3 separate regions of the Homo sapiens genome follow, and all the other regions are reported to be linked to region 3. Evidence: microRNA targets listed by miRTarBase, many of them from high-throughput screens and not tested one by one. Region 3 holds a microRNA gene; each other region holds the end of a gene's coding sequence.

The links. The annotated mature microRNA hsa-miR-551b-5p reads GAAAUCAAGCGUGGGUGAGACC and lies in region 3 at 2,098-2,119, shown strand. An mRNA with a match to its seed (bases 2 to 7 or 8) in the 3' UTR can be bound and repressed. Matches are read on the target gene's strand: a 7mer-m8 pairs with bases 2 to 8, a 7mer-A1 pairs with bases 2 to 7 and ends in A, and an 8mer does both.
Region 1: the mRNA of ERCC1 is a reported target of hsa-miR-551b-5p. Seed matches in the 3' UTR shown: 7mer-m8 at 1,990-1,996.
Region 2: miRTarBase lists LRRC42 as a target of hsa-miR-551b-5p. Seed matches in the 3' UTR shown: 7mer-A1 at 498-504.

The regions. Positions count from the first base shown.
Region 1 is chr19:45,407,065-45,410,064 of GRCh38, reverse strand. It overlaps ERCC1 (ERCC excision repair 1, endonuclease non-catalytic subunit), which reads left to right. Exons shown (of 10, transcript NM_001983.4): 10 at 340-2,731. The coding sequence ends at 390. It overlaps POLR1G (RNA polymerase I subunit G), which reads right to left. Exons shown (of 3, transcript NM_012099.3): 2 at 2,830-2,971; 3 at 1-1,932. The coding sequence ends at 564. Among named protein-coding and RNA genes, the nearest start is that of POLR1G, 1.9 kb to the right of the region's middle.
Region 2 is chr1:53,967,509-53,970,508 of GRCh38, forward strand. LRRC42 (leucine rich repeat containing 42) reads left to right here. Exons shown (of 9, transcript NM_001256409.2): 9 at 157-660. The coding sequence ends at 431. Among named protein-coding and RNA genes, the nearest start is that of LRRC42, 23 kb to the left of the region's middle.
Region 3 is chr3:168,549,778-168,553,127 of GRCh38, forward strand. It overlaps MIR551B (microRNA 551b), which reads left to right and starts at 2,077; the gene lies at 2,077-2,172. It also overlaps the pseudogene EGFEM1P.

The DNA.
Region 1 (3,000 bases), not on the chromosome of region 3:
AAAAATACAAAAAATTAGCTGGGCAGGGGCCTGTAGTCCCAGCTACTCAGGAGGCTGAGGCAGGAGAATGGCGTGAACCCGGGAGGCGGAGCTTGCAGTGAGCCGAGATTGCGCCACTGCACTCCAACCTGGGCGACAGAGCGAGACTCCATCTCAAAAAAAAAAAAAATAATAATAATAATAATAACTTAAAAAGATTGTAACTGGATTGTTTGTAACTCAATGGATAAATGCTTGAGGGTATAGGGGAAAATAAAGAACCAAAACCCCACTCTAGATTTACCCAGGAAACAGCTCCTTTAATGACTGGTTCCTCATTTTTTTCTCCCTCCCATCCAGGCCCGGAGGCTGTTTGATGTCCTGCACGAGCCCTTCTTGAAAGTACCCTGATGACCCCAGCTGCCAAGGAAACCCCCAGTGTAATAATAAATCGTCCTCCCAGGCCAGGCTCCTGCTGGCTGCGCTGGTGCAGTCTCTGGGGAGGGATTCTGGGGGTGTCACCTTCTGGTGGCCCAGGTGGGCACCTTCAGCTTTCTTTAGTTCCTCAGTTTCCCGGGGGCAGACTACACAGGCTGCTGCTGCTGCTGCTTCCGCTTCTTGTCCCGGCCTGTGGGAGCCTCCTCCCCAGACTCTGAATTCAGTGGCGGCCCTGGCATCTCCTCTTGGGGCACTGTCTCTGGCATCCGGCTTTCCTGACTCTGCTTCTTCCTCTTCTTGGTGGATCCCGGAGTTGCCCTGGCTTCAGGCTGTCCCTCCCCTGGCAGTTCAGGCTCTAGTGGCTGAATTGGCTCAGTCACTGTGTGACCTCTCTCTTTCTTCTTCTTCTTCTTCTTGGTGGATGTGGGAGCTGCCTGAGGCTCAAGGTCATCCGGCAGCTCAGGCCCCACCACCTCTGTCTCTGGCTCCACTGTGGCATCTTGCTGTTTTTCTTTCTTCGTCTTCTTTTTGGGAGCTGCCAGAGCTGCCTGGGCCTGAGGCTTCGCTCCTTCTGGCTGTTGAGGCGCCATGGTCCCCCCTGGGGACTCCAGAGGCTTCATCTCCGGCTCCACTGGCTCCATCGCCTCCGTCCCTGGCTCCATCATTGCCATCTGTCCCTTTTCTTTTTTCCTCTTCTTCGTAGGGGGCAGAGGGATGGCTTCCTCCAGTGGCTCCACCTTCACCTGTGGCTGAGACTCAACTGTCACCCCCTCCTCTGGCTCCATCCCTTCCGTCCCCTTTTGCCTCTTTCTCTTTTTGGTCGGGGACAGGACTGTGTCTTCTAGAGGCTCAGTGTTAATCTGTTCCTGCTTCACTGTCTTGTCTTCTGGCTCGAAGGTTTCTTTCCCTTTGGGCTTCTTCCTCTTCTTGGTGGTGGACGGGAACAGCACTCCCAGAGGCTCCAGTGTCTCCACTGTGGGCTCTGTCCCCACAGGCCCTGCTGCCTCTGGTTCTTTCAGCTGCTGATTTTTTTTCTTCTTCTTCTTCCGCACATCCATTTCTGGCGACCCCAAAGCCATGTCCACCTCCAGGGCCCCGTGCCCATTCACTGCCTCCTGAGTGACTGGGGCCTCTGTCACCTGCATCTCCTTTTTCTTCTTCCCTGAGGTGAGCAGGTTGGGGGCCAAGGCTGACCTAGGCCCTGTGACTGGTGGGTTGCCCCCAAAGGCACAGAACCGAGGCCTCAGGCCAGGAGGGATCTGTGGTGGGGGACTTGCTGGGATGGGCTGCAGAGGGCTCCCTGACAGGGATTGCTGGGGACCCTCAAGGATCCTTAGGGTGCCCTGGGGGGCTGAGGCACAGGTGAGTCCACCTCCTGCCTCCGTTGAGGGGGCCAGCAGGGTCGCTTCTCCAGCTTGGGGACAGCTGCTGAGGACTCGATAGCGGTGCCGCTTGCCTGCCAATTTGCCCTTGACGATCTGGGAGCCAGAGAGAGGCACATGCCGCCCATTGAAGCTACAGAGAGAAACAGGGAGGGCAGAGGCTTAAGTGGAACAGGAGAGGGAAGGTTTTTTGATTTTTTTTTTGTTTTTTTTTGAGAGAGTCTTGCTCTGTTGCCTAGGCTGGAGTGCAGTGGCATGATCTCGGCTCACTGCAATGTCCACCTCCTGGGTTCAAGCGATTCTCCTGCCTCAGCCTCTCAAGTAGCTGGGATTACAGGCACCTGCCACCACGCCCAGCCAATTTTTGTATTTTTAGTAGAGACAATTTCACTATGTTGGCCAGGCTGGTCTTGAACTCCTGACCTCAAGTGATCTGCTCGCCTCGGCCTCCCAAAGGATGGGATTACAGGCACCAGCCACTGCGCCTGGCTGGCCTCTGGTTTTTAATAAAACATGACTAGAGTGACTCCATCTTAAAGTGAGTAGCTAGGCACTTACAAGGTTCATGCTTATGGCCTGAAAATAACCACATCCCAGGCTGACCACCAATTATAATTACAGAATATTTATGGCCATACAGAACATGTTCCACCAAGCCTGCAGAATGTCCAAATGTCCTAAGAATGCAGCCCCCATTACTTAAATATAACATAAATGAGCAAGCTTAGGTTGCAGGATTAATGGTCGTGGATAACACCAATAGCCCCTACCTTTAGTGAGCTTATCTGCACACTCCAAGTTTAACTATAGTTCCTTATAGTTTCTTATAAGTAGAAATACTAACAAAGGGCTGTGGGTTTCTCCCCCTGCTTTCTGAGGACACTCTACTCTGTAAAGGAGTAGTTTCCAATAAACTTGTTTCTTTCACTGTGCTCTGTGACTCACCTCTAATTCTTTCCTGTGACAAATTCAAGAACCCGCTCTTGGGGTCTGGACCGGGACCCTCTTTTCCGTCAACAAGACCACTCACCATTCTGGGGCAAAGTCTGCAGGGGCCTGAATAAGCCACAGCTCCGTATCTGGACCCGTCAGCGCCTCCAAGGAGAAACGAGGGGACTCTGAGGCTGGGGGCTTCGCGGTAAAGTTGGGGGGACAAGAGAACCGAGCAGCATCTGCAGCAGAAGGGGAAATGGGGTCGACT
Region 2 (3,000 bases), not on the chromosome of region 3:
ACCACAGCGACCTCACAGGGCACTCAAGGCAAAATGCAATCAATGCAGATATCACCCTGTTTGGGCCTTTGTCATATCCCTGGGTTTATCCTAGACTGATGAGGGAATTAGCATATGCCAGTGTAGTGAACTCATCATCCCTCCCTTCTGTCACAGATGGGAAGCGGTCTCGAGCAGAAGCCCCACTGAAGTGTCCCCTGGCAGACACCCACATGAACTCTTCCGAGAAACTCCAGTTCTATAAAGAGAAAGCCCCAGATTGCCATGGGCCAGTGTTGAAACACGAAGCTATCTCAAGCCAGGAGTCAAAGAAGAGCAAGAAGAGACCTTTTGAGGAGTCAGAGACAGAACAGAATAACTCTTCACAACCTTCAAAGCAGAAATATGTATGTCTTGCTGTGGAAGACTGGGACTTGTTAAATTCCTATTGATTAGTAGATACAAGTTGACCTTTCTCTGGCCCCCAGCTCTAGTGTTTGAGTAAAGGAGACTGAGGATGATTTACTTTTTGTTTGAATTTACCTATGGCATTAGCATAGTAAGCAGATATTTCTACTTTTGTGGTGTGGGAGGGGAATGCTATGGAAGTATGTAATAATTTCTAATGTATATTTTCAATACATAGTAATTTTTTCAAATAAACATTTTTGCTGTCCTTAAGTTCTGCTTGTGGATTATAGACTGGAGCCACAGGAAATAACACGGTTTGGGATGGAAGGCCAGGTGAACTAACAAGGCAGCTTAGCATAACTCAGAGATACTGCAGGTTTGGTTCCAGACCACTGCAGTAAAGCAAACACTGCAATAAAGTGAGTCACCAGACTCTTTCATTTCCTAGTGCATATAACAGTTATGTTTACACTATATAGCAGTCTCTTAGATGTGCAATAGCATTATCTCCAAAAAGAAAAAACATGTATATACCCTCATTTTAAAATACTTTATTGCTAAAGAAAATGCTAACAATTATCTGAGCCTTTAGCAAGTTACATTCGTTTTGTTGGTGGTTGGGGGGTCTTGCCTTTGTTGGTGGATGGATGCTAACTAATCAGGGTGGTGGTTGCTGAAGGTTGGAGTGGCTATGGAAATTTCTTAAAATAAGACAATGAAGTTTGCCACATTGATTGACTCTTCCTTTTGTAAAAGATTTTGCTAGAGCACACGATGTGGTTTGATAGCATTTTACCTACAATAGAACTTCTTTCAAAATTGGAGTCAGTCCCCTCAAACCCTGCTGCTGCTTTATCAACTAAGTCTATGTAATAGTCTCAGTCCTTTGTTATTTCAACAATGGTTACATCTTTACCAGGAGTAGATTCCATTTCAAGAAACTACTTTCTTTGCTCATCCATAAGAAGTAAGTCCTCATCCTTTCAAGTTTTATCATGAGATTGCAGCAGTTCAGTCCTATCTTCAGGCTCCACTTCTAGCTTTCTTGCTATTTCTACCACATCTGCAGTTTCTTCCTCCACTGAAGTTTTGAACCCCTCAAAATCATGAGGGTTGGATTCAACTTCTTTCAAACCCTTGTTAATGTTGATTTTTTTTTTTTTTTTTTTTTTTTTTTTTTTTTTTTGAGACAGAATCTTACTCTGTGGCCCAGGCTGGAGTACAATGGCATGATCTCGGCTCACTGCAACCTCTGCCTCCTAGGTTCAAGTGATTCTCCTGCCTCAACCTCCCAAGTAGCTGGGATTACAGGCGCATGCCACCACGCCTGGCTAATTTTTATATTTTTAGTAGAGATGGGGTTTCACCATCTTGGCCAGGCTGGTCTTGAACTCCTGACCTCAAGTGATCCACCTGCCTCAGCCTCCCAAAGTGCTAGGATTACAGGAGTGAGCCACCACACCCGGCCCTAATGTTGATATTTTGACCTCTTCCTATGAATCACAAAATGTTCTTAATGGCATCTAGAATGGTGAGTCTTTTCTAGGAGGGAAAGTTTAGTTTTGTTTTTTGAGACAGGGTCTTGCTCTGTTGCCCAGGCTGGAGTGCAGTGGTGTGATCATAGCTCACTGCAGCCTCGACCTTCCAGGCTCAGGTGGTCCTCCCACCTCAGCCTCCCAAGTAGCTGGGACTACAGGCACATGCCATTGTCACACCTGGCTGATTTTTGTATCTTTTGTAGGGATAGGGTCTCACCATGTTGCCCAGGTTGGTCTCCTGGGTTCAAGAGATCTGCCCACCTCAGCTCCCAAAGTGCTAGTATTACAGGCGTGAGCCACTGCACCTGGCCTCCAAGAGGTTTTTAATTTACTTATTTACTTTGTCCAGATCCATTAGAGAAGTCACTGTCTATGGCAGCTATTGCTTTGTGAAATGTATTTAATAATAAGACCTGAAAGTTGAAATTACTCCAGATCCATATGCTGCAGAATAGGTGTTATGGTAGCAGGCATGAAAACAACATTCATCTTGTAAGTTTTTGGGTGATCAGGTATATTGTCTATGAGCAGAAATATTTTGAAAGTGCCTCTAATTTGTGGACTACACATTGAGTAGCAAAGCTCTAGACCTTTACTGTCCAATATGTAGCTCCTAGCTACATGTAGCTATTAAATACTCGAAATGTGGCTAGTCCAAATTGAGATGTGCTATAAAATACACACTGGATATCAGATATCAAAGACTTAGTATCTAAAAGTTTGAATGAAAAATGTCTCAGCCAGGCGTGGTGGCTCGCGCCTGTAATCCCAGCACTTTGGGAGGCCAAGGCGGGCGGATCATGAGGTCAGGAGATCGAGACTATCCTGGCTAATATGGTGAAACCCCGTCTCTACTGAAAATACAAAAAATTAGCCGGGTGTGGTGGCATGCACCTGTAATTCCAGCTACTTGGGAGGCTGAGGCAGGAGAATCGCTTGAACCCGGAGGGCAGAGGTCATAGTGAGCTGAGATTGTGCCACTGCACTCCAGCCTGGTGACACAGCAAGACTCTGTCTCAAAAAAAAAAAAGTCTCCATTTTGAAATACTGGTTACATGTTAAAATGGTAATT
Region 3 (3,350 bases):
GTCTATTTACTTCAAATTTACCATGGTTAAAATTGAGCTAATTTCCTACCTTCTTTAAATCTCTTTATGATTTCTCCTTACCTCTGAGTAAATGGTGTCATAACCACCACGTTCAGGGGGCTGGAAACCCATGAGTCCTCGTGCATTCTTCCTCAACATCCAATCCTCAAATTCTATTGGTGTTCATTGTTTTTTGTTGTTGTTGTTTTTTGTTTGTTTGTTTGTTTTTATCTTCACTGCCACAAGTCTGATTTTATACTCTCATTTTTCACATGAAAATGGCAACAGCTTTCTAACTAGCCTCTGCTGTCTCACCACTTACCGAGAAAACATCCAAATTCCCTGGCACTCACGCATGGCCTTTGACAACATGGTCCCTGCAAGTCCGATCTTTCCTCAGTTTTCTGGATCTCTCACCAGGTCCCCCCTTTTACCTGTTCTCTGGTGATAATGAACTTCCAGGAGTTCCTGGATCTTCCATACTTCTTACTTGCTCACCCTTCTTTCTCTTTCTCTCTTTCTCTTTGGAATGCCCTGTTTTAATTGCCCACTTGGAAAGTTCCTTTTCATCTGTTGTATCACTAGTTCCACTCCTCTACCCCACACTATGCATTAATGAAGGTCCCTTGGAAGGTCCCTATTATGTGGCCCATGCCCTTTGAGCAAATGCTACCTTGATGTAAAACTTTCCACAAAGAAGTTAATGTTGGTAAAGTGCCACTCGGAAATTAAAGCACAGTGCTTTGAAGAGTTAAATCCAATGACCTTGTAAAGAACTGGAAATTGTTAACAATGGTGCTGTCTGTCAAGGCTGGCATACTAGAGAGGCTCCGTGTGGACACCAAGATCTGAGCTCGTGAGGTAGGTGGGAGGGGGAGGCATGGTGATTATGGTAAATAGGGGGGCCCAGACAAGATGAGTCTTTCTGTCTCAGGAAGGAAAAAAAGATCACTGAAGAGTAAAGCTAGGGTACAGAATGGCAACACCAAGTTTAAGTGTTGATGCAAGGGTTGATGGCAATGAGATGAAGCTGAGCAGGGAACCAGGTAGAAATGGAACTGAACAGGTGCAGGGAGGCAATGGAGCAAAGAGGTTTCTGGGCCACTCTCAGGATCAGTCATGAAATGTCCTTAGCTTCTCATTTTTGTTGGAGGATATGTGGAGGCATAGAGCTTGGTCACATTGAGCTGACGCAAGTCACTGATTCCTGCAACCTCTAGTGATGCATTTCCAAACTCAGGTTAAAATGAAGGTCAAGAACTCCTGTTTTGCCATTTCTAAATTATTGGGATTAGGCTATGAGCTTATTTCGAGGTATTTTTCAGTTCTGCTATGCTATGACTCTGATTTTGTTTTTATTTGGTAATCTTATATGGACAATAATTGCATTTTGCAAATTTAAAAGTATCATGCCAACATGGTTTGTCTGTTACTTAGCTTTCATTTTTCTTTTAATGTTGGAAAATTGTGATACAAATTTATAGATCCTAAATTAACAAATTACTCAAGACTTTAGAATTTCTTAAAATGTTATGGTATGCTTTTTTTTTGAAAGCTCTACATTTTATAAAACCAAATTTGTCATACGAAGTTTTAGGTATCAAGAAAGAATTCTGTGGATTTTTGTGTTGTCAGGGTATCTTAGATTGTAATTTTATGTATTTTCCTTTTGGTACCTCATAAAAACTAGAAGGGCTTTCTTGAACTGCATACTTTGTCAATACAATTTGATGATGGAGAAAGACATTTAAGTCCAGAACGATTGGTGTAAAGTACACTGGGTGAGACTGTATAGTTGAATTTTCCAGATGATCGAAAATTGACAGTAAAGAAATATATACAAAATAGATTTTGAAAGAATTGTTGAATGTTTACCTGTCGCTACATATTATCTTGGATACAGTACAGATAATCCGAATGGAAAATTGCACTGAAAATGTCTTCCCCTGAGTTATATTTGCTGGTTCTTACATAAAATGTTATTTATACAACAGATTTTATTGTATCTTCTCTTGCTTTACTCCTTTATCACCTTCTAGCTAACTGTCCTGACTTCAGACCTCTGTTAGATCTGCCAGATGTGCTCTCCTGGCCCATGAAATCAAGCGTGGGTGAGACCTGGTGCAGAACGGGAAGGCGACCCATACTTGGTTTCAGAGGCTGTGAGAATAACTGCAATTTAGAGGGAATACCATTTATGTTTATGCAGGACTTCCAGAGAAAAAACAAAATTTATTATAGACATAAAGAATAAGAGATGAAATTCATGATTATATTGCATTTCTGTTCCAATGGGATTAAAAAAAAAAAAACACGTATTCTAAGTAAGTTGAACCAGGTTGACAGCTAATGATTTGATGTCTCTGTTAATGATTTTAAAACATTGTACAAATCCAAAACTGTTTACTCCTTCAAGGTATACCTCCTTTTCTCCCACTTCTCCAGCTATTGTGGTCCATTTGCCCTTGCTCTGGGCTAGTTCCTTGGTAACTAACAGAAATGGATGGACAGAGATGCCATGACAGGAGTATGGATTTTGCTGGGTCCTCATTTATGCTGGGGCATCTATCAACTCTTTTTCCAACATATTTTTGTTTCCCACACAGCCCCACTCACAGATGCTTGCCTATAGGGCCAAAAATCTCTAGTTAGCAATCTGCCAGAGTCCTGCTTTTTTGTGTAGGAGATTGGAGTTCTTTCAAATAACCCATCTGGTAAGATGTAGAGAAGTAGAGAAACTGAGGTAAATAAAATGTATATTGTTAAGTACTTTATTGCATACTTTGTACCTTTGCTGATAATTAATTTATAGACTATATCTGTTGAGCTGGTGTTGGTTAAGGTTGTATTTGCTTGTTTGTTTGTTCTATACTCTTTAAAAACTTTTGTGGGTGGGTAGGGAGGGTATAATGGTGTTGATGTATGTTGTCATCCCTTAGGCCAGAGGAACCATTTCACAATTACTTTTTATTTTCTCAACAAGAATTCTGAAGGCCTGTATCTTTGGCACAGAAAATTAAGCTATAAAGGCAAGTTCTGCCAAGTATATATTACATATCTCCTGGCCATGGATTTTGGTAGGCTGTGAGAAAAATATGAAAGTCATTTCCAAAGATTTATTTTGTATTTCCTTAATTGACTTTCATATTTGTAATACATTTTCTATTTATAAATGGTATTTCTTTGTTCCACTTAAGGTACCTTAATTTATAAACACACAAAATTAATCAAGGACATTTCCCCATTTTGTTAGGTTCTGAGAAGAATAAACCAAATTCTTCGCCAAGGCTTTTCCTTTTTTGGAAAATGCATTGGATAAACATGGTTTTCTTTGAATTATCTCAATGAAA